Linked DNA regions of Homo sapiens. The protein of the gene in region 5 purifies or fractionates together with the protein of the main gene of each other region. This does not show direct contact. Each region holds a gene or a part of one and is shown on either strand. Other genes may lie near its edges. The genes, in order: LRRC8A, PCNX3, PPP3CB, OMA1, KCNK18, ACVR1 and UGCG.

Region 1 (3,500 bases), on a different chromosome or scaffold from region 5:
CTTCACCTCGCTGGGCTCTGGTTTCCTCATCTGTAAAATGGGTTGACAAGTCTATTGCTTGGAGGGCTGTGATGAGGACAGAAGGAGACAGTCCATATAAAGCTTTTGGACTAGTGCCTGCCATACAGTAAGGCTCTGGAACGTTCACTGCTGTTATTATTATGGTAGAGTTTAAATCAGTCCTTTTATGGGTGTGATGTCGGAGGCCCAGAGAAGTTTGGTAACCTGCCCAAGGCCACACAGCTAGGAAGAGCTGGGAAGATGCACCCCAAGCCCGACTTTCCATTGTGCCAACCTGCCTCAAAGACAAGCAGGCCTCCCGGACCCACCTGGGACCCAGGCCCTTGAAGATACTTCTTGAGACAAGATACTCTTTTCCTTAGGGGGTACATGGAAACCAGGGCTCTACAGGGAACCCCATCAGGCCATACTCAGATGCCTCTGGTCTCACGGGTACTGCTATAAGGAAGCTCTGGAAGGGAGCCTAGCCCTGGGTTTAGGGCCAGAAGGCAGTGTTGGGTCTGGGCCCTGGGGGCAGAAGGGCCTAGAAGGCAGGCCGTTTTATTTTTTTTGAGACAGGATCTTGCGCTGTCGCCGAGGCTGGAGCACAATGGTGCGATCATGACTCACTGCAACTTTGAACTCCTTGGCTCAAGCGATCCTCCAGCCTCAGCCTCCGAGTAGCTGAAACTACAGGCATGTGCCACCACACCTGGCTATTTTTAAAAATTTTTTGTAGAGATAGGTTGTTATGTTGCCCAGGCTGGTCTGGAACTCCTGGGTTCAAGCAGTCCTCCAGTCTCAACCTCTAAGTAGCTGGAACTACATGCACATGCCACCACACCTGGCTAATTTTTTTTTTTAGACGGGATCTCACTCTGTCACCAGGCTAAAGTGCAGTGGCACAATCTCGGCTCACTGCAACCTTCGCCTCCCGGGTTCAAGTGATTCTCCTGCCTCAGCCTCCCAAGTAGCTGGGATTACAGGTGCATGTCACCATACCCGGCTGATTTTTGTATTTTTTAGTAGAAACGGGGTTTCACCATGTTGGCCAGGCTGGTCTTGAACTCCTGACCTCAGGTGATCCACCTGCCTCAGCCTCCCAAAGTGCTGAGCCACTGTGCCTGGACTAATTTTTTTTTTATTTTTGTAGAGACAGGTCACTATGTTGCCCAGGCTGGTCTGGAACTCCTGGGCTCAAGCAATCCTCCACCTCAGCCTCCCAAAGTGCTGGGATTACTGGTGGGAACCGCCACGTCCAGCCAACGTTTGTTGGCTCATATTTGCACATGGAGTCACGGCCACACACGGTTTACAGGTCTTAACCTGTTATGAATACCAGCGCTGCCTTCTTAGACAGGTTATGAAATGTGGCCACCAGTACCCTAGAGAGGCAGCAGACACATCTTCTGCTGAGATCCCAGGGGAGTGGGCACTGGCCAAGCCCTAGGTGAGCCAGGGGGAGGACTGGGGGGTCTGACAGAGGGTGAGCTGCCTGGTACCCGACTCTCTGGGATGGAAGGGGGCTACCCCCAGGGATCCTGACTCATGGAGTCAGCTGGGAGATGCGAGGTGTCCCTTCAGGGCCAGGATTCCCGCCCACCGCCCCCGCTGCTGGTCAGTGCGTTTGTCATGCTGCCCGTCAGAGGGCGCAGGTTTGGCAGTGGCACTCTGACGGCGTCCAGGTGGCACGTGAAAGCTATGGAATTTTACAGCCACTTTTACTCCACTGGAACATTGCTCTAGGCGTGAGGCTTAGATTGCAGCAAGCAATTTAATTTTGAGGTTTTAAGCCCTCAAGAGACGTTTAGATGTAGACAAACTTGCTGCAAGACGCAAGACGCAACAGAAACGCATCTGGAAGACAGCAGGGAACATTTGTGGCTGGGAGTAAAAGCCCTTCTAGAAACCTCAGCCCCACACGTCCTTGAGGAGGGAAGGTTAAGCCCCTCGCCTTCCCAGCACACACACACACACACACACACACACACACACACACACAAAATGAAGCCACTAAAAAACAACTGTCTGGCCAGGTGCGGTGGCTCACACCTGTAATCCCAGCACTTTGGGAGGCCGAGGTGGGTGGATCACCTGAGGTCAGGAGTTCGAGACCAGCCTGACCAACAAGGTGAAACCCCGTCTCTACTAAAAATACAAAAATTAGCCAGGCGTGGTGGTGCACATCTGTAATCCCAGCTACTTGGGAGGCTGAGACAGGAGAATCACTTGAACCCAGGAGGCAGAGGCTGCAATGAGCCAAGATGGCACCATTGCACTCCAGTCTGGGCAACAGAGCAGGATTCCATCTCAAAAAAGTAAAATTAAATTAAAAAAATTGGCCAGGCGCAGTGGCTCACGGCTGTAGTCCTGGAACTTTGGAGAACAAGGTGGGTGGATCACAAGGTCAGGAGATCGAGACCAGCCATGGCCAATATGGTGACACCCCGTCTCTACTAAAAATACAAAAATTAGCTGGGCATGGTGGCGGGCACCTGTAGTCCCAGCTACTCGGGAGGCTGAGGCAGGAGAATAGCTTGAACCTGGGAGGTGGAGGTTGCAGTGAGCAAGATTGTGCCACTGCACTCCAGCCTGGGTGACAGAGCAACACTCCATCTCAAAATAATTAATTAATTAATTAAACAAAAAAAAAAAAACCTGTCCAGTCCCAGTCCTGTGGGGAGCTCAGCCCTGCTTCCACACCAAGGGCATGAGTTCTGCGGTAGACGACTGGGACTAAGGCTGAAAGAATGGCGTCCGGTCAGTGTTTCTCAGCATTGTTTGTAGCCCACCAGCCTCACAACTGCTGGGGAAGCATCTTCAAAGTTCAGATTCCTGGGGCCAACCTTCCAGGGCAGACTCTGCAGGTCTGTGGTGGTGGGCCCAGGGGAACAGCATTTTAGACAAGCTTCCAGGTGACTTTGAAGGCCCCCAAAAGCCTGGGAACCTGAGAAAAGAGGGTAATGGAGGGTGAAGTAGAAAGAGCCCCAGCTGCCAAGCCATACCAACCTGGGTTCAAGTCCTAGCTTTGCCACATGTACACTGTATAACTTTGGGCCAGAGACCTCATCCCTCTGGGGCTTGGTCTGTAAAATGGTAAAGCAACCTCACACGCAAGGCTGTGGCGAAGGTAAGATGGGCAAATGCGTGCAGCATCCCAGCCTGTGGCTCAGCACTGAGACATGGTGCTGAGAATGACCACGGACTATGAAGGTGCTACTGCAGGAAGGAGAAGCCAGAGACGCTGAGCACCATCTGTGGAGGGGCCAGCTCTGCAGCTCTCTCCCAAGCAGTGTATGGGAGAGAAAAGAGACTCCTGGGGAAGAATGGAGGAAGTGACGTGGGGGAGGGAAAGCGACAGGACAGTGAGCCTGAAAAACACAGGTGAGATGTCAGGAGCTCTGGCACAGACCTCACTCCCAGCGCGATCCTGCCAGACGCTCTCGCAGCCCCGCAAAACGAGGCTGCCACGCCTGTATGCTCTCCTTGCCCAAACCCTT
Region 2 (2,582 bases), on a different chromosome or scaffold from region 5:
AGGGAGGGCGTGTTGCTGAGGATGGCGCTGCGCCATGCTGGGTCACCCTCATGTGAGATGACCAGCCGCTCCTCGTTGGCCGCAATGGCATCGTATAGGGCTGCTGGCTCCTCATATTCATCTGGGGACGTGAAGTGGTCCTGGTAGAGAAGACGGGAACAGGGGTCAGTGGCCCCTGCCCTGGAGAGAGGCTTCATCCCCCACCTGCCCATGCTGCTGGGCACACCCCTCCCCAACCTGGTGAAGCTTGAGGGCCATGCGAACCCCAGGCGCCACAACGCGGTGAAGCAGGTCCATGTCGGCAAAGACCCACTCGTCACGTGGGGAGGTGATGCGAAAATCCCCCTTGAACAGGGCGTGCAGGCCGTAGAGGAAGGGCTCCAGGCTAAGTGGGAGGAAAAACAGGGAGGGGAGAGAGGGGTGTCGAGGACCCAGGGGTAAGGCTTCAGAGTGATCCAAGCAGAGGCCTTTCCTCACGCTGAGCCTCAGTTTCCCCATCTTGACAAAGAGGCCAATCTCTGCCCATGTCTCTCACAGAGCACTGAGGAGCAGGCAAGGTCATGACCAGGAAGTGCCCTGCCCGTGGGAGAAGAGGTACCCCAACAGGAAGGGCCACTGCAGTTTCTGTGGCCACTGTGGCCAGAGACCACAGTGCTCTTCGTGGAAGAGGTGGGGTGGGGACGGCAGTAGGCCCCGCGGGACACCCGAGCACTCACCTTGCAGACATGCTGTGAGAGGCTGTCCCCAGGGCCCGGCGGCCCAGCACACACAGGCCAAAACACAGCGTGACCAGCGGGGAGTTCCAATCCTGGTCCACGGGCTGTGGCATAAGGACCCCCATCCCAGAGCCCAGCTCAGACCTGGGACAGGGACCTTGGAGTGGGGGCTGGGGCTCAGGCTAAGGGAGGCTCAGAGTGAGAGGAAACCAAATGGGGAGAAGGGGAGCAGGGAAGCCCAGGTCCCACAGCCCCAGGTGGCAGCCTCAGGTAGTGGAGCCTGACCTGGCTGCGCCGGGAGGCGCAGTACTGGATCCACTCGAGGTGCACAGCACAAAAGGAGGGCAGCGAGAGGCCAGACAGGCGGAGGTCATAGTCCTCATCCACACTCAGCGAGAAGGTGGGATCCGAGTCGGCATAGCCGGGCACCCGCACAGGCCTCAGGGCTGCCGTGATGCCCTCATGGCTGAGCCACACCTCCAGCTTTGGTGAGCGGCTCACGTAGTAGATGATGCTCTGGGAGAGGAGGGGCAGGCGTCAGGCCGGGGTCCCGGCCCTGGCCACTGGAGGAGAAAGCATGGAGGTTCAGAGGCTCCTCCCCAAGACTGAGCTGAAGTCCGCTTTCTGGGATGCCCCGCTCCTAGAGCCATCTCAGCTCTCAAGAGCAACCAAGCAAGTTGGCTCCTTCCCCTAGACCAGGGAGGAGTGACAAAGCCGCCAGGAAGCACCCACTTACAGAGCAGGAAGTCCTGTGCTGGGGCTAGCACTCACAAGCAGCATCTGCCTGCCTCTGCCCTAGAATATGCCCCGTTTGTATGAGAAATTGAGGCTCAAACAAATGGCAGCCCCCAACGAGAACAAGATCATCACACTCAACATTTACCACCTCAGCTTCCAAGTCATCAAGGTGGAGCTGGCCCCACCTGCCCTGAACCCTGTCCCCCACCCGCCTCTGGCTGGCCCCGACACTATGGTGTGGCCCTCAGGTGAACCTTCAGTGCCTGTGCAGCACGTGGGCCAGGTAGCAGCAGGAGCTGGTGTTCCTGCACAAACATAACCCCGAGCGCGGGAGCATCCAGATGTCACATGGGCAGGGGGCGGGGAGCGAGTGGGGCAGAACAGACTGAACTGCCGCCTGAACCCCGGACCTTCCCCATCATGACATTGTGGGATCCAGATCTCGGGGCCGGAAGGGCAGGCTGAAGTAGTGGGCCTGCCTCAGAGTGCCTGGGTCACAGGTCCCTTTAGGCAGCTGAAGCATGACAGCCATCAGGCCTCGCCTCAGAAAAAAGCCACGGGCACATGTGGTACCCAAAGCTGGGGGCTCCTGGACCTCTTGTTAAAAGGCCCTGTTGGGCAAAAGTACAGGAGCTTTGGAAGACAGGTAGCTGGCATGGCCAGGATGCACGGGCGGGTTAAGGCCGGCAGGGCAGCCAGTGAGGTGATGGGGATTCCATGTGCCACCCTAAGATGGAGCTAATGGGGCAGGCCCTTTGCCAGGGCAGACCCGCTCCAGACTGACTTTCTTGCCCATAGCTCGCCTCTACAATCCAGGCACCACCAGAGCTGCTAAAAAGACCCAGAAAAGAAAAGCTTCAGCCAGACAGGGTGGCTCACACCTGTAATCCCAGAACTTCGGGAGGTGGAGGTGGGAGGATCGCTTGAACCCAGGAGTTCAAGACCAGCCTGGACAACATGGCGAAACCCCATCTCTACAAAAAATACAAAAATTAGCCAGGCATGGTGGTGCATGCCTGTAGTCCCAGCTACCTGGGAGGCTGAGGTAGGAGGATTACTTGAACCTGGGAGGTGGACACTGCAGTGAACCCAGATGGCACCACTGCACTCCAGCCTGGGTGACAGAAT
Region 3 (3,500 bases), about 44 Mb from region 5:
GGCTCTGTTCTTTGTGGGGGACCTGAAAGGACTTCTCCTGTCTACCAGTAACTTCCTTTCTATTCTAGTACTGATGTTCCAAATACCTACAGATACTAACATCTATAGCCTTAAAAAATTCCATTTATACTGACAGAGTTTATCATGAACTCAAATTTGCCTCAGAAAAAGACTACTGAGCATCTTTTCAAACTCATCTACCAATTAAAGAGACATTAAGGAAGAGAAGTGAGGTCTTACAGGCATAAATTCTAATTATTTCATGATATAGACACATAGGTCATATTATAAATAAGAAATACATTATTGGTATAGTGTGTCACTGGTCCATTTAGAGAATTTCACCATAATTAGTCAAACATTTTATAGTCAAAGATTCTTTTTTTCGCTCATTTCTGGGTTTGAACTGTATAAAGAGCTCACACTGAGGACCAGGACTCAAGATAGCACACAACAATACTGGTTTACAATATTGTCCATTCCCCTTATTACTCAGAATATTTGTAAAAGTAATGCCCTGGTCTCTCCTATTTTGCTTCTTCTGCAATAAGGCCAATTAGAATAATTATTCCTGAAGTGATCTTTTAGCAATTAACATGATTTAGAAATAATTTTATCCAAAGCAATTATTAATGTAAAAGAAACTGATGAATCTAAGGTATTAAAGTGAACTAAGTTAGAAAATGTTGATCTTAACCAGACAGTAAAGTGAATTGGGGACCCAAAAGAATTAGGACGAACACTGAATAAAGGAAGAGTTAATTTTCCTTAACTGTTAAACTACATTACAAATCGGGCAGGACATGGAAGATCATGCCTATAACCCCAGCACTCTCGGATGGCTGAGGTGGAAGGATCCCTTGAGCGTTTGAGCCCAGCCTGGGCAACACATAGAGAGACCTCATCTCCCCCCAAAAAAAGTTTAAAAAATTAGCCGGGCATGGTGGTGTGCATATGTAATCCCAGCTACTCGGGAAGCTGAAGCAGGAAGATCACTTGAGCCCAGATTGCTAATTGCAACACTCTATCTGAAAGGCACTATTTCTCCTCTATTTGTTTTCAGTTATATAGGGCATCTTGTCATGGCCTTAATAAGTTTGAGCATAGTGCTATCTCAAACTGTGTTCCTCAGTACTATGCAAGATAAATGACCAAGAGGAATTTGGTATTACTAACATAGAATTGGCCACATATATTTCCCATATAGATCCTGGTGAGGGTAGCATTACAGTGCTAGCTCCCAATCAAATTTCCCAGAAAGAAAACATACATAAAATAAAGATGAACAGAAAATCCACCTCCAATAGAGTTGTGCAGTTTGTAAAAACACTCAAGAAACATCATGTAAATTAACTTTTAAAGTTCTTGAAACGACAATTTTTATTTTCTGACAAATAGGCACGAGGTCTTAGAATTAAAATTTTTTCCTTTTGCAATACCTAACTCTCAGTTATACACACTAACATCAGGGAACATTATCTACTAAAATTTAAAATGTAGGATAACTTTTTAAAAAATAATCACAAACATGCAGCTTTTGTATGACCTTTGTTATTTGTTTCAAAGTGGATTTATCTTATGCTAGGAAAATAATTTTGACCAAATGCCCAAACCACACTATCAAGAGCTAGCAAAACTAGAAGCTATCTAGTTTAAGGGGTCCCAAATTAGACCCCTTAAACTCAATTCCTTCCAGTAACTTAGTCCATGCTGAGAATAGAGAGTCCCTCCAGCAAAGCTGCTGTCTTTCAAACCTCCCCTGCAGTTGAGGGTGGTTTCAAAGTTGAAGGAATGAGCTTCAAGCCGTGTACAAATTAAGAATAAACAGAAGTCAACAAAGCATGTAATTAGCAGGGGCTAATCGTGAAATCTGAAAGCAAGGTTTGCTGCGGATACAATATAAAAGTAATGTTATATCCAAGGATAACTGAGAGATGACTATACTGTAGATTTATTTAAGTATGATACCCTTTTGGTTTTATTTTTCTTTTCTGAACAAAGAAGAGTATAATATTTTTGAAGCTATTAAAGTTCATCCTTTTCTATTAACATTTTTACTAGTTTTATCAAATGTTTAAGATCTTGTTTTAATGTACATTCATGAAATTCTTTTTAGTTCATTTTTCTAATGTTTACAATATAATAAGAAAAATGGAGGGCAAGGAATGTAAAGCAAATCAAAGCAGGTTGTTTTTTTTTTTTAAAGAAAATCAAAAAAAGAAACCTCATTCAGAATGAAAATTTATAATTTCAAAACACAGTGTACTTTTCAGATATACCAGTGGTGGTAGTGAACAATACAATGACATTTAAAATAGAACATGTATAGGCTACAAGTAAAAATTGTTTACAGGAAAAAAATTTTTTTTATTGAAAAGCAATCATTGGCCAGGCATAGTGGCTCATGCCTATAATCCCAGCACTTTGGGAGGCTGAGGTCAGAAGATTGCTTGAGCCCAGGAGTTTGAGACCAGCCTGGGCAATACAAAAATATAAAAAAATAAAAAATAAAAAAAATAAAAAAAATTAGCTGGCTGTGGTGGCATGTGCCTATGGTCTTAGCTACTTGGGTGGCTGAAATGGAGGACTGCTTGAGCCCAGGAGGTTGAGGCTGCACTGCACTCCAGCCTGGGTGACACAGCAAGAAACCAGACCCTGTCTGTCTCTCTCACACACACACATGTACACATGCACACAAAAAAAGAAAGACAGAGAGAGAGAGAGAAAGAGAGAGAGAGAGAGAGAAAGAAAGAAAGAAAGACAGAAAGAAAGAAAGAAAGAAAGAAAGAAAGAAAGAAAGAAAGAAAAAGAAAGAGAAGAGAAGAGAGAAAAGAAAAAAAAAGAGCACTTATTATGGAACCAAGTGAAATGAAATTGTGAAGTCAAATGTAAATTCATTCAAAACGTTAAAATTGCCTATTTTTTTCCCTCTAAAAAAGTCACTAATTACAACACCAAAAAGAAACCTAATTATGACTAAGGAAAACATCAGATCTGTTGCTATTTTAATAGACAATGACCCTTAGAGGGCTGTCAAAAGTGACTACAAGAAATTCAGGCTTTTCCACATCATGTATTTTTGCTTTCCAACCACAGGAAAAGAAATCTAGACTGAATTACTGTGTATGGTCACTAATACTCACATCACTCTCTTCTATTTAATCTGTAATGGGCTTTTAAAAAGTTAACCCAGTATTTACACAAATATTTACGCCAAAAAAAGTTTTTTAAGTATAAAATATTCAATGAGCCAGATTACAGGAATGCTTTACGTATAATTCTTTTTATTTTCATGCAAAATAAAGGCACACTTAATAACACCCTTTCAATTTTGACTTACAGGATTTAAATTCAACCCCTTATAACAATGACTTAATATCTAATGTTACATTCATGTTCAGAATGCACAAAGTGCAGCAACAAATGCAGCAAACCTCAAAACAAGGTGCTACAAAGCTGCTTCTACATTGCAAGACAGACAAGTGTCTGATGGAGTAATT
Region 4 (3,500 bases), on a different chromosome or scaffold from region 5:
ATCATAGAATTCAAGTTGATGTATGCTCCTGTGAATACATGTCTGTTCATCTTGATATAAGTCCAGGAAAAATAACACATCTGTTTCACACATTTTTTAAATTGTTATTCATTTAAAAATATAAATGGCTCTTTTGTCTACATTAGAGAAAGTATTTTTTAAATTGTAAACGCAAAGGTACATAGTGAAGTGACTGAAATGCTAAATCAGAAATACAAGTAACATTAACTTCAAATGGAAATGATAATGATTCTAATCCTTCTAAGAGTAATCTCAAATTCTACCTGTTCCTTAGACTATTAATAAGATGAGATGGGCTAAATTGTTTTTCTGAAACACTGAAAGTAATTATCTCCTTGATTTCTTTTGAGTTACAGGAAGATTTTAAAAACATTTTTCTTGACTGGGTGCAGTGGCTTATACCTGTAATCCCAGCACTTTGAGAGGCTGAGGCAGGAGTATTGCTTGAGCCCAGGAGTTTGAGACTGGCCTCGGCAACATAGACTCAGTCTGTACAGAAAAATTTTAAAAATTAGCTGAGCATGGTGGCTCACACCTGTAGTTCCAGCTGTTCTGGAGCCTGAGGCAGGAGGATTGCTTGAGCCTGGGAGATCAAGGCTACAGTGAGCCATGATCGCACCACTGCACTCTAGCCTGGGTGACAGAGTGAGACACTGTCTCAAACAAAAAAGTAAGAAAAAAAATCTTTTTTTCTTAAACAAATATACACAAGAATACGTCTAAGCAGTGTTATTATATGCACTCTAATATCTTTCAAGTAATGGCTTCACAACTGCAAAATCAGTTTTGGCCATTTTAGCATTTGAAAGGTGTTACTATTCAGTACATTTGTTTTTTAGGCATCTAGTTCAGTGCCTTATATTCAGTGTATTGTCATCTCTATCAGTGCAAGAACAGTAGTAGATGAGGTGTAAAAAGCAAACAGCAGCCTTAAAAATAGAACATAGTTATTAATATGTTTTTGCAGAGATCTTAAACATTGTCAGCACAATATTTTCTCTTTTGGGAGTCTCAGTTTTGATTTTATCTAGGCGTTTATGTTTTCTTTATTCTACAAATACAGGTTTTTGTGTGTGTATTTCCAGTTTTCTAAGACTGTATAATAGCAATTATATTCTTTAATAACAAGGGCTTTCTCTTCTATAACAACTTCCTTATTTTGAGTTTCACTTTTTCATGTTAAAATAATTTCATAATTGGGCTGGGCACAGTGGCTCACCCCTGTAATCCCAGCACTTTGGGAGGCTGAGGTGGGTGGATCATGAGGTCAGGAGTTCAAGACCAGCCTGGCCAACATGGTGAAACTCCATCTCTGCTAAAAATACAAAAAATAGCTGAGCATGGTGGTGGGTACCTGTAATCACAGGTACTCGGGAGGCTGAGGCAGGAGAAACATTTGAACCTGGAGGCGGAGGTTGCAGTGAGTCGAGACCTCGCCACTGCACTCCAGCTTGGGCAACAGGGCAAGACTCTGTCTCAAAAAAAAAAAGATAAATCCATAATTGTTTTTCAAAACACACATTTGTGTTTTGAGGCAAAGTAATGAGGCAAATATAAGGAGGTAAAGTATGTTTTGTGAGGGTACAATATTTGTTAAGGGACAATATTCTAAGTCAGTTTTTAGTTTTCAGTCATTTTTCATACATTCAAGTAATGACTGCTATTTTATCAGTTTCAGCATTACAACATTAACATTTACTAATCACCTTTAATGGCAAACCATGAACAATCTAGTTCATTAAACTTAGATATTACTACTCAAAACAACTATTTTATGAAAAATCTTTTTTGGTAACTGATATAAGTAAATACAAAAATTCATAGAACCTGATTCTTTCATGATAAATACTAGACTTACAAATTTACAAACTTGTATAAATGAATAATATTTCATATATTAGGTCTTGAAGATCAGAATACTTTTATTTAAAATAAACTTCCAGTCTTTTTCTGAATTTTTTCTTGTTTTAAGTGCTTCATATGTTAGGTAGTGTTTAGTCTTTATCCAAAAATATTAGTAAAATAAAACATTTACTTGATTTTTTAAAATGATGCAACTATATTAAAAACTAAAACTGACCGGGTTTGATTTCTGGTCCTTTTAGTAATAGCTGTGCAAATCTGGGCAACTCTTAACCTCTCTCTATCTCAGTTTCATTATCTATAAATGTAGGGATAATTGTAGCTATTTCACAAGATTATTATGCCTGTTAATATAAGAAATTGTAGGTTTATATCCTCTGACTAATAGTAAGTGGCTTAGTAGATACTAGTTAAATGAATGAATAGGTATATAAGTAGATAAACCAAGGAAGGGAAAAACAGACCCGGAAAGAATAAGCAAAAGAAGAAAAAGAGAACTCTCAGTCTTAGGTGGAGAAGGTCAGGTAATTGTAACACATGATGAACTAGAAAATGTAAGCATATACTGTCTCAATGTATAAAATGTAGTTTTTATTATTTTGATTATTCTTAGGCAGAAAAGGCTGGCATGGTTCATTTGTTGGATTTCCTAGGTATGATTTTCCTCACAATGATTTGGGCCATTTGTCCTCGAGATAGCTTGGCACTTTTGTGCCAGTGGATACAGTCTAAATTGCAGGAGGTAAGTCTGAGACAATAACTTGAATTGATCATAGCCTCTGGTGAAGATATTTTAATACTACTGTAAAGCAGCAAATCCAGAGATGTTTTTACATTTTACTATGAAATATGGGTACGAATTTTTAGTGTCTTATGTTTTCTCGTTTTTAGGGGATATTCTTATATATGAATATTTAAATTAAGGAATACTACATCTCTCAAATGATGGGTATGGAGAGTTAGAAGGGCTTGGCAACTTTTGGCTAATAAAATTTTTGAAAATATATTTATTGGTTTTACAGAGAGAAAACCCAGCCACTGACCCTTCCTTTCGTAGTAACTGAATGACTCCCAAATTCAGCTGTCCCTTGGTATACAGGACTTCTTGTGGATACCAAAATCTGAGTATGCTCAAGTCCTTGATAAAAAATGGCATGGTATTGGCCGGGCGCCGTGGCTCATGCCTGTAATCTCAGCACTTTGGGAGGCCAAGGTGGGTGGATCACGAAGTCAGGAGATTGAGACCATCCTGGCTAACGTGGTGAAACCCTGTCTCTACTAAAAATACAAAAAAATTAGCCTGGCGTTGTGGCGGGCGCCTGTAGTCTCAGCTACTTGGGAGGCTGAGGCAGGAGAATGGCGTGAACCCAGGAGGCAGAGCTTGCTGTGAGCCGAGATTGCGCCACTGCACTCCAGCCTGGGCGACAGAGTGAGACTACATCTCAAAAAAAAATAAAAATAAAAATAAAAGCATGGTGTTTGCATGTAACTATGCACATCCTCTCATATACTTTAAATCATCTCTAGATTACTTGTAATTCAATGTAAATGCTATGTAAATAGTTATTTTACTATATATATTTTTAAGTTGTAGTTTTTTAAATTGTTTTTTCGTA
Region 5 (3,500 bases):
ATATGGGATACGATCTCTCTGAGCCTCTGGTTTGGTAAAAGAGGCAGACATTAATTTTAAAAACCACACTAATGAGTATGTAATTACAAATGGAGATCAATAACAGGAAGTGAAAGAGCAGACCATTCCATGAATGATTAGAACAAAGGCACCTATCCTAAGCCATGCGCAATGGCTCACACCTGTAATCCCAGCAATTTGAGGGGCCAAGGCGGACAGATCATATGAGGTCAGGAGTTCAAGACCAGCCTGGCCAACGTGGCAAAACCCTGTCTCTACTAAAAATACAAAAATTGGCCAGGTGTGATGGCGCATACCTGTAATCCCAGCTACTTGGGAGGCTGAGGCATGAGAATCACTTGAACCCAGGGGGCGGAGGTTGCAGTGAGCTGAGATCGTGCTACTGTACTCCAGCCTGGGCAACGGAGCGAGACTCTGTCTCAACAAAAACAAACAAAGGCACCCATCCTGGATTTGGGCCCAGGAAAGATTTTTCCTGTGAGGGGATTTTTGAGCTGATGTTGGGAAGGGGTCACAAACTAGCCAGGTGAAGAGAGAGGAAGCAGCCTGTGCAAAGACCCTATGGCGGGTTCAACAAAGGGTTATCCATACAGTGACAGTGGGGCAACTTGTGTACTGCACATATACCAAGGGGGTGACTGGGAGCTGAAACCTAGCCTCCGTGCACTTACCAAGCTTGGAGCTCAGGGCTCGGGGCACTGGGCTGTGTCTGCCTAGTGAGGGATATGGTTTTCTAACTTTTCACCAAGGTGTCACCCTGAGTGTAGCTGTCACCCAGCTTTAAGGAACCAAGAGAAGGCCAGTGTGTCTAGTGTGCAGGGAGGTAGGGGAGGGGAGCAAGGGGAGGCCGGGAGGTGGGCAGCATCTAAGGGCTTCCATGGCAGATGGGGGAGTGCCTTGATCAGTGTGGAAGGCTGAAAAATGACAGCCCCCAAATATAGCCAAGTCCTAACTCCTAGAATCTGTCAATGCTACCTTATTTGGTAAGTGGGTCTTTGTCGATGTGATTAAGGATCTCAAGATGAGGAAGTTATCCTGGATTGTGTGTGTGGCCCTAGGTACCATTACAAGTGTCCTGATAAGGGAGAGGCTGAGCAAGATATTTTACACAGAGAAGAGGAGGTAATATGACCTCAGAGGCAGAGACAAGAGTGATGTGGCCACGAGCCAGGGGATGCTGGCAGCCACCAGAAGCTGCCAAGGAAGAGGCAAGGAAGGGTCCTCTCCTAGAGCCTTAGAGGGAGTATGGCTCTGCCAACACCTTCATTTTTGAAATCAGTAAAACTGATTTCGAATTTCTGGCCTCCAGATTGTGACAGAATAAATTTCTATTGCTTCAAGCCACTGAGTTTGTGGGAATTTATTACAGCAGCCACAAGAAACTAATAAAATCAGGTTTGTATCTTTTTTTTTTAAGATGAGATCTTGCTCTGTTGCCCAGGCTGGAGTGAAGAGGCGTGCACGACCTTGGCTTACTGCAACCTCCACCTCCTGGGTTCAAGAGATTCTCTTGCCTCAGCCTCCTGAGTAGCTGGGACTACAGGCACCCACCACCATGCCTGGTTAATTTTTGTATTTTTAGTAGAGACAAGGTTTCACCATGTTGGCCAGGCTGGCCTCGAACCCCTGACCTCAAGTGATCTGCCCACCTCAGCCCCCCAAAGTGCTGGGCTTACAGGAGTGAGCCACCACTTCTGACTTGGTTTGCATCTTGAAAAAATCATCCTGACTGCATCACAGACAGTAAATTGTAGGGCTTCAGATAGACGCAGGACAATGAGTGGGGATGCTATGCTTCCTGCCCAGGTGAGAGATAAAGGGGGCTTTGGCTGAGGTGGGAGCTGAGAGGAGAGACCTGTAGGGACTGGCAGAAATCTCAGCAGGACAGGAGGATGGTTTGGATTGGAGTGCCTGAAAGGAGCTGGGATTTGAGCACAGAGCAGGCACTGTGAATCCACCAGAATCTACTGCTGTCTTTGGCAAAGGTGGGTTTACAGGATTATAAACAAAGCCTTTTTGGCTGCCTCTGGGTGAGATACTTTTGCAATCCAAAATATGCAATATGTCACATTCCTGAAAAAGTTTAAAGGAAGCAGGTCTCAGAGAGCACACAACCCCCACAAAGGGAATGTATTAACTATTCTAATTACTGAATGCCAAAATGCATAATGGAACTCATTATTTCTTAGAATGCATTCATATATTTTGATACAATCAGTTCACTGCACTTGGCCTGTGAGTACTTAACAGCTCATGCACTTTCCTTTCTAATCCAAGAGGGATGACCCAGTTGGGAATGACGGGATTGACCGGCCTCACAGCTGTCAGGTATCCTGTGCTTAGCATTAAGGCCAGGTGCATTTCAGATGACCCAGAGATGCAGGGCAGGAAGCAGTATTACCAGAGAGACTTTCAAACACCGTTATTGATTATGGACAGTGCGGAACATTCCCCAACATCCTCTTCCAGTTGTTTGTAATTACTGGGCGGCATGATGTCCTAATTGACTCGTACAATGGGCAGTAGCATTGCCTTCTTGGAATTTAAGCCAAGCTAATGCATTTCCATTAGATCAGTGACTCACAGCCTGGACTCCCACTAGAATCACCTGGAGGGCCCTGGAAAATACTGATGTCTGGGCCTGGTCCCTAGGGATTCTGTTTGTTCTAGGGCAGGGTCCACACATGGGAGCTTGCAAAAGCTCTGCAGGTGACTCTGACATGCAGCCAGGGCACGCTTCTCAAACATTAGCACACATCAGAATCACATGGAGAACTTTCTAAACTACAGATTGCTGGGTCCCACAGCCATGGTTTCTGGCTCAGTAGGTCTAGAATGGCTCCTGAGAATTAATTTGCATTTCTATCAAGTTCCCCAGTGATGTCGATGTTACTCAGGGACCACATTTTGACAACCATTGCAATAGATCATTTCTCAATAGCGGGCAATTTTGCCCCCCAGAGGAAATTTGGCAATGCCTGGAGACTATTGTGGCTGTCATAATGGGTAGGGACAGTGGGGAAAGTGCTATTGCATCTGGTGGGTGGAGGCCAGAGATGCTGCTCAACATCCTACATTGCACAGGAGCCTCCTCTGCAGAGAATTATCCCATGCAAGAAGCTGATAGTGCTGAGGTTGAGAAATCCTGCCTCAGATGCATCTGAGGTTTTTTTCTTTTTTCTTTTTTTTTTTTTTTTGAGACTCTGCCATCCAGGCCAACTCTTGTCACCCAGGCTGGAGTGCAGTGGCGCGATCATGGCTCACTGCAGTCTCAACCTCCAGGGCTCAAGTGATGCTCCCACCTCAGCCTCCTGAGTAGCAGGGACTACAGGTGCACGTCACCACGCCCAGCTGATTTTTTTATTTTTTGTAGAGATGAGGTCTCATTGTATTTCCCAGACTGGTCTCCAACTCTCACCTGATCCTCCCAAAGTGCTGGGATTACAGGCATAAGCCAGGGCACCTGGACCAACCTAAAT
Region 6 (3,500 bases), on a different chromosome or scaffold from region 5:
CCTCTCTTCATTTACTCGCTTATTCAGACATTCATTCACTGATTCACTCCCTGGGTTCAGACCTCTCCATGACATTATGTCATCAGGCCCTGTTCTTCCCTACAGAGGCCTTACCCATTTCCATATTACTGGTCTCTTCAGCCATCCAATCACAAGCTTAACTTCCTTTACGTATTTGTTTAACTTTCCAAGCCCAACTAATCAACAGCTTGGCATACATCATACTCCATGGCATATGTCATTTGCATGAGAAAGTGTAAAACTAACAAAATGCAACGCTGAATTATAAATACTGTGGCCACGCTAATCAGATTAGAATGTCCTTAAATTCAAAAAAAAAAATCTTCTATTAAAACTCAAGGTCTAGCAGAGTGATCTGCAGATTAGAAACTTCACAGTTGGTATAATAATGTTTGTATGAATTCAGACATTTGTTTATGTCCATCCACCCAATTAATAAAAATTTAACTCACAAAGTATAACAGTAAATTTTATTCCATCAAGGACCCTTTTAGTTTTAACCATGTAAATACTTGATCTCCTTTAAAACCCTCTTTGATTATTCAATCCTATTTGCTTGTCAGAATTTAACCTTTTCCATATGCCTTAAAGTCATCACCATAACTTCAAAATTACTAGAACATGATCTTGCATCAGCTTTTTTGTTCTTCTGCCTCCTTTCTTGCTGGCTGACATTTCTAGTTTTGGATGCTCGTCGTTACCTCTCCTCCACTTTTTGGTTTGTTTCTTTTTTCTGAGTGCAAAATTAAATAACTAAACCTATTAAAAATGTACTATATGGTAAGAGAATAAATTTGGCTTGGAATGAGTTTACATAAATGTTTGCAGAGACTTTAAGATTGCAATTTAGGGCTCATTTAATAGGGAAACAGTTTCAGAGCTGGACTGGTTTCCTTAGCATATGCAATCTGTACTGATGGTAGAGAGAAGATTCCACAAAAACTACAGGGTTTGTGCGAAATCTCATCCTGCTTCAAATTTCAGTGATAGGGTCACTGGGCATCAGATATGGGAGAAGAGGTCAGTGAGCCTTCTTTTATCTCCTTCCTCATAAAACAGGAAAGGCATTCCACTCAGTCACCAGTCCGTTCTGTTTTCCTCCCTACACACTTGACACAGAGATGAGTATTTACTAGCAGAATTGTTTCAGAAATTATGAATGACATCATGGGTCAGTAACATAAAAAGGTATTGGGAGCTGTTCACCTGAGTCACAGCAACCAAGAGAAAGCTAACTGGTCAGCTAAGCTGTCCCCAAGATGGACATCACCTTGCTTACATTCCCCAAAATGCCCATCCTTCTTTTAGATGCCAAAAGGCTGTTCCTTTCTCTTCTTCACCCAGGGTGACCTTCCTTGTAGCTCTTCGCCTCTGATTCAAAATGTAGGTGGAATGCCTCATAGCTACTTAGATCTTTAACCCACACGGACCCAGGACAACACTAACAAAACCCCTTGATCTAGAAATAGAAAAGTCCATGGGAACCTTTAGTGGGCAGCTGGGCCGTGATGTTCCTGTTACACCAGTCCCCTTGGCAGCACTCCACGGCTTGGCCAGGGGACGGCGGGGTCTTACAGGTCATCTTTCCCTGCTCATAAACCTGGAAGCAGCCTTTCTGGTAGACGTGGAAGCCATCGTTGATGCTCAGTGAGGAAAAGCACTGCTGGCCTTCACAGTGGTCCTCATTACCGCAGGAGAGACCTTCACACACACACATGTAGAGTTTGGGGTTGACCTTGGGCTTCTCATCTGCAAAGGAGAGAAAGGAAGGGGAAAAAAAAAAAAAAGAGGAATTACCGTATGAGTTTCACCTTCATTGAGGGAATGACCATTCCAAACACCTCTATCAACAGAAAGTCAAGCTAAGCATCACCATCAACCATGAGGTCCACATTCTGTCACCTTGTCACCTAACCAACCAACAAATAATAATTGCCTCTCAACATAGCGATTCATTTATATAAGCTGTGCACCCTTTTAGATCATATTAGGACAAAGACTGGCTATCATCTGTCCACAGACTTCTGAAAATGAGCTTCTCCCCCTGTGGTGTTCATATAACCTTCAGCGTGATTGGCTCTAAGATCCCAATTACTGCATCAAAATAAAATGTTTTACTGGAACATAATGTTTATCACCTTTATTCTATTCCAAAAAAAAAGCTCCTAAATATATGGCAGCTATTAATACTAATTTTTGCTAGCTCTGTACAAATCCCCATCAACTCGTAAAACAAGGAATGCTGACATTCTTGCAGGTACATGGCAGAAATATACTACAAACTGAGTATCCCTTACTCGAAATGTTTGAGACCAGAAAAGTTTCAAATTTAAAAATTTTTCTGGATTGGGGAATAGTTGTATTTATCCTGGCTGAGCATCTCAAATCCAAAAATCCAGAATTCAAAATGCTCCAATGAGCATTTCTATTGAGCATTGGGTCAATGCTAAAAAAGGTTTGGATTCCAGAGCAGTTCAAGTATCAGGTTTTGGGATTTGAGATGTTCAACCTGTAATATAATAAGAGTTTGCAAGGCTGTACAATCTATAATTACAATCCATGGTACCAATATTTCCAGCTAGATGCCTAGACTAACTTTTTCACTAGTGGTAACACTAAAGTTTACATAGATTATAGTGGGAATTAACACCTGCTTAAGAATTTTTGGCTGGCAGGAAAAAAATGGTGCCAAATATGGAGAATGAGGGCACAAGGAGACCAAGAGAACCGAATAATGTTTGAACAGTAAGGTGACAGGTGGGACCACTGGAAGAATACACACCTAGGGAGTTCAAGGTGCAATGGAAAGAGGCAGAAACGGATGATCAGGGAAGCACATCTAATCACTCTGCTTAATTGTCTCTTTCTGAGAATACTTATTTGCATCTGCATTTTCACATTACTCTTTTCTCTTCCCTTGTCAGTATGATTAGTTTAGACTTGCTGGTCCCACAGTTTCTACTAGTGGGGAAGGAAACAGAGGATAAAATGTAAACAGCCAAGTCCTAGAGGCCACTGATTAGTTAGCTGAGGCCACTTTTGCCGAAGCACTGTTCATATTAGGAAATTCAGCTTTCAGAGCTCCCTCCAAAGGTCTATGGCACATAGAGGCTGCCTTCTAATCCCTGAACCCTCAGTAGTGGGTCTAGGAGATAAATGCTTCTTTCTTAAAATAACAGGTTGGGTGGCTGTGCTTTCCAGAGGAGACCTTAAGGTAAGGTCTTTGAAAATGTCAAGTTCATTTACACAGATTTGTGTGGGTGTGTGTAGAGATGTGGGTTATCTCAAAAAGAGAAAAGCATTCTTAATCTTTCTTCTTCCCTCTTCAAAGAAGTGGAAAAATAGTTCACTGCCCACTGTAATGTGGGTGCCTCGTCCCACAGAGTAAGTGCATGCAGACACACAGACACAGCCTTCTATTTATAATTGACTTGCTAGTTCCTTTGAAAACCACAAGGGGCTCATCCAAGAGCAAAGAC
Region 7 (3,500 bases), on a different chromosome or scaffold from region 5:
GGATTACAGGCGTGAGCCACCACGCCCTGTCTGTCTCATTTTTAAATAACTTCTTTTACAGTTCTGTTTTCAAATTTGGCTTTTGCAAGAGGGAAGCCTGGGATGCAGGGAAACCCACTGGAGACAGGTAAAGGTTAAACAAGGAGGGTGGGCTCCTTCCCCTTCAGATGGCGGGAAGCAGCCTCTGCAGCAACCTTAATACAGCTCCTCACAAGTGAGGCACAAGAATTTCACTCGGCTGGGTACAGTGGCTCATGCCTGTAATCCCAGCACTTTGCTGGGCTGAGATGGGGGAATCACTTGAGGCCAGGAGTTCAAGACCAGACTGGCCAACATCATGAAACCCCACCTCTACTGAAAGTACAAAAATTAGCGGGGTGTGGTGGCACGTGCTTGTAGTCTCAGCTGCTTGGGAGGCTGAGGCACAAGAATCACTCAAACCCAGAAGGCGGAGGTTGCAGTAAGCCGAGATCGCACCACTGCCATCCAGCCTGGGCAACAGAATGAGACTCTGTCTCAAAAAAAAAAAAAGAGAGAATTTCACTCTAGGTTTCTAAGGAAGAATATGAATTCCACAAGGGCAAAAGTTCACCTTGCTTAACAACCCCAGAATGTGTTGTTTTTATAATTCCGCTGTGTGGTTCTGCTGAACCAATTTATCTGACTCTAGGAATTTATCTTCCCTGCTCCAAGTCACAAAGCTTGTTAGTATTTCGTGTAAAATTAGGTTCACTGCTATATCAGCAAGTCCCTAACTTCACATAGTCCATGCCAGCAATTTCCAGTGACTAATGACCTTTGTTATTGTTATCACTCATGACTATATTACTGTTTGTTTATAATCAGTATATCATGACCAATTTACTACCTGTATCACTTATTTCAAAAATGGTATTGCTTCAAAATGGGCTTCATAAGCAATATAAAGCACACCTTCTTGTGCAAGCTTAACCTTGCTAACACAAATTCTCTCACAGAAGGTAAAATAACCAATAGTGAGTTAGCTCTATAGGAAAACACAAACTCTGCCCACTGGACAATGGGCTTACTACACTATAGAATGTAGAAGATTCCACCACCATAGAAAACAAATAGGAGATGGCTGGGTGCCATAAGGGGCACCTAACCCAATAAGGAACTAAAGTCTAAAATGACTTGAACGAGTAGGAGTTAATTAAGCAAGATTTTTGGAAGGAAAGAAGGAAGAGAAAGAAAAAAGAAAGAAAGTAAAGACAATTCCAAAGAAAGCACATTGTACATTTGGGGAAATGCCAGTAATACAACGTTGCTGGTTCAGCTCCTACAGAGCTGTGCTTGTCTCATTAAGGAGTTTGAACTGTAACCCGGAGGCAATGAGGATTCATGGTAAGATTTTAAGCTACTGTGATCCAAGATTAGTAATCCAGAAGGATAAAGGCTACAATAAGAAATATAAAATCGAGGGGGCACAAGGCTGCAGCTAGAGATACCAGCGAGTAGACATAGCTTCAACATCTAGGATAGATATGAAGGTGTGCTGAACTAACTAATGTCAGAGAGAAAGGCAGGGATAATGAATCAATAGAACCATCACTGAATACTAAAATCTTGCAATTTCCACTTTGCTCTTTTTCTTTTCTTCAACTTTTAAGTTCAGGGGTACATGTGCAGGATGTGCAGGTTTGTTACGTAGGTAAACATGTGCCATGGTGGTTTGCTGCCCAGGTCATCCCATCACCGAGGTATTAAGCCCAGTATCTATTAACTATTCTTCTTGATGCTCTCCCTCCCCACACTGCCCCTCACTTTGTTCTTTAAAGCTATCACACTATAGTCTAATTCCGTATCTTCCCAGGCTCAGGTTAAAGGGGCTGAATTGCTGGACTGCCTTATTCATTTCCCTGAAAGTAGCCCTGTAGCAATGATCCTGACTGATGAACGTTTGACCACAGTCCAAGGGCATTGGCAGGACTAAACCCAAAAAAGACGTTCTCAATTTACATTCCACTAAGGCTTGGAACACCAAGTATTCATGAATTTAAGGCAAAGATCGTACTAACTAAAAATAATATCCCAAATGCTAAAATTTACATGAAAAACATAACCAGTTTTTGACGGGTAGTTTATCGCAGTTATCCTGACACAATGAGTATGCAAATTCCATTCAAAAACTGTGCATCAGGTATTGAAGTTGCTGTACATTAGAGATAGCATATTTGGGTTGGGCGCAGTGGCTCACGCCCGTAATCCCAGAACTTCAGGAGGCCAAGGTGGGGGGATCACTTGAGCCCAGGAGTTTGAGACCAGCCTGGGTGACAAAAATTAGCTGGGCGTGATGGCATGCACCGGTAGTCCCAGCTACTTGGGAGGCTGAGGTGGGAGAATTGCTCGAGCCTGGGATGTGAAGCCGTGATCGAGCCACTGCATTCCAGCCTGGGCAACAGAGAGGACTGTCTCAAAAAAATAACAATAAACAAAATAAAGGAAATACGTTTGTAGAAAGCAGAATTAACTTTAAAAAAAACTTAAAAAATCTCCAGGGGGCCAGGCATGATGGCTCACACCTGTAATCCCAGCACTTTGGGAGCCAAGACAGGTAGATCACTTAAGTCCAGGAGTTCAAGACCAGCCTGGGAAACATGGCAGAACCCTGTCTCTACAAAAAGCACAAAAATTAGCCAGGCATGCCTGTAGTCCCAGCTACTTGGGAGCTACTTAGGAAGCTGAAGCAGGAGAATCATTTCAGCCTGGGATGCGGTGGTTGCAGTCAGCCAAGATCGTGCCATTGCACTCCAGCCTAAGCAACAGAGCAAGACCCTGTATCAAAGAAAGAATACACACACACACACACACACACATATACATATACACCTCCAGGTAAAAAAGGACCTCTGTTTTACTTGAGGGTAGCTAATATTTAAGGACACATAAATTATTTCCACACTAGCCTAGCACCTCCAGTCGAAAGATAAAGCCTGATGATAAACATTAGGACCTTATGTACACAGGGAAATAATAATAATATGAGGTGGATGGGATAGGGAAGAGAGCATGAAGCAAGGTTTCTGCTTAGATCACTTCATCACGCAGCAACGTGGCTCCCAAGGGCTAGAAGAGAAACACTACCATCAGGTCTAGGCTTTTATACAATTTCACCTTAGGCCCCAACCTATCAAGCCACACTAGCACTTACCATTAAAAAAAAAAAAAAAAATTAACCCATAAAGGCTATTTAACTTGCCAAGGCTATACTCTTTAGTTATTTTTAGGAAATCTTCAATCTCAACAATAAGACTCTTGAATTTGAAATGTCTCTAATCTGAATGTTACCTTTGACATTGTTGGCAGAAATCCTACAAACATCTGCCATCTAAAATAGGTTAAGAAAGGGCAATAGAAGCTTTGAAACATACCCAAGTATAAAGCAGAATTTAGTTTATAATAAAAATATTTCAAAACAGTGGAATAATCAAATAATCATCTGATAAGTAATTCTGGACAAGTCTCTAAATATTTAGAAG

What was found.
Region 1: the proteins of KCNK18 (region 5) and LRRC8A purify together in Homo sapiens (affinity purification with mass spectrometry; one large-scale study listed by BioGRID and IntAct). This does not show direct contact.
Region 2: the proteins of KCNK18 (region 5) and PCNX3 purify together in Homo sapiens (affinity purification with mass spectrometry; one large-scale study listed by BioGRID and IntAct). This does not show direct contact.
Region 3: the proteins of KCNK18 (region 5) and PPP3CB purify together in Homo sapiens (affinity purification with mass spectrometry; one large-scale study listed by BioGRID and IntAct). This does not show direct contact.
Region 4: the proteins of KCNK18 (region 5) and OMA1 purify together in Homo sapiens (affinity purification with mass spectrometry; one large-scale study listed by BioGRID and IntAct). This does not show direct contact.
Region 6: the proteins of KCNK18 (region 5) and ACVR1 purify together in Homo sapiens (affinity purification with mass spectrometry; one large-scale study listed by BioGRID and IntAct). This does not show direct contact.
Region 7: the proteins of KCNK18 (region 5) and UGCG purify together in Homo sapiens (affinity purification with mass spectrometry; one large-scale study listed by BioGRID and IntAct). This does not show direct contact.

Annotation. Positions count from the first base shown.
Region 1 is NC_000009.12:128,888,633-128,892,132, reverse strand, and holds part of LRRC8A (volume-regulated anion channel subunit LRRC8A), read right to left. Parts: intron 67-3,500; exon of another isoform or gene 1-66. UniProt on the Homo sapiens protein: Essential component of the volume-regulated anion channel (VRAC, also named VSOAC channel), an anion channel required to maintain a constant cell volume in response to extracellular or intracellular osmotic changes.
Region 2 is NC_000011.10:65,632,776-65,635,357, reverse strand, and holds part of PCNX3 (pecanex-like protein 3), read right to left. Parts: intron 1,280-2,582; coding exon of another isoform or gene 1,233-1,279; coding exon 1,002-1,232; intron 821-1,001; coding exon 717-820; intron 386-716; coding exon 238-385; intron 141-237; coding exon 1-140.
Region 3 is NC_000010.11:73,440,525-73,444,024, forward strand, and holds part of PPP3CB (serine/threonine-protein phosphatase 2B catalytic subunit beta isoform), read right to left. Parts: exon of another isoform or gene 3,265-3,500; intron 1-3,264. UniProt on the Homo sapiens protein: Calcium-dependent, calmodulin-stimulated protein phosphatase which plays an essential role in the transduction of intracellular Ca(2+)-mediated signals.
Region 4 is NC_000001.11:58,529,727-58,533,226, reverse strand, and holds part of OMA1 (metalloendopeptidase OMA1, mitochondrial precursor), read left to right. Parts: intron 1-2,497; coding exon 2,498-2,626; intron 2,627-3,500. UniProt on the Homo sapiens protein: Metalloprotease that is part of the quality control system in the inner membrane of mitochondria. Activated in response to various mitochondrial stress, leading to the proteolytic cleavage of target proteins, such as OPA1, UQCC3 and DELE1.
Region 5 is NC_000010.11:117,203,989-117,207,488, reverse strand, and holds part of KCNK18 (potassium channel subfamily K member 18), read right to left. Parts: intron 1-3,500. UniProt on the Homo sapiens protein: K(+) channel that conducts outward and inward rectifying currents at depolarized and hyperpolarized membrane potentials, respectively.
Region 6 is NC_000002.12:157,778,831-157,782,330, forward strand, and holds part of ACVR1 (activin receptor type-1 precursor), read right to left. Parts: intron 1,771-3,500; coding exon 1,507-1,770; intron 1-1,506. UniProt on the Homo sapiens protein: Bone morphogenetic protein (BMP) type I receptor that is involved in a wide variety of biological processes, including bone, heart, cartilage, nervous, and reproductive system development and regulation.
Region 7 is NC_000009.12:111,899,814-111,903,313, reverse strand, and holds part of UGCG (ceramide glucosyltransferase), read right to left. Parts: intron 1-3,500. UniProt on the Homo sapiens protein: Participates in the initial step of the glucosylceramide-based glycosphingolipid/GSL synthetic pathway at the cytosolic surface of the Golgi.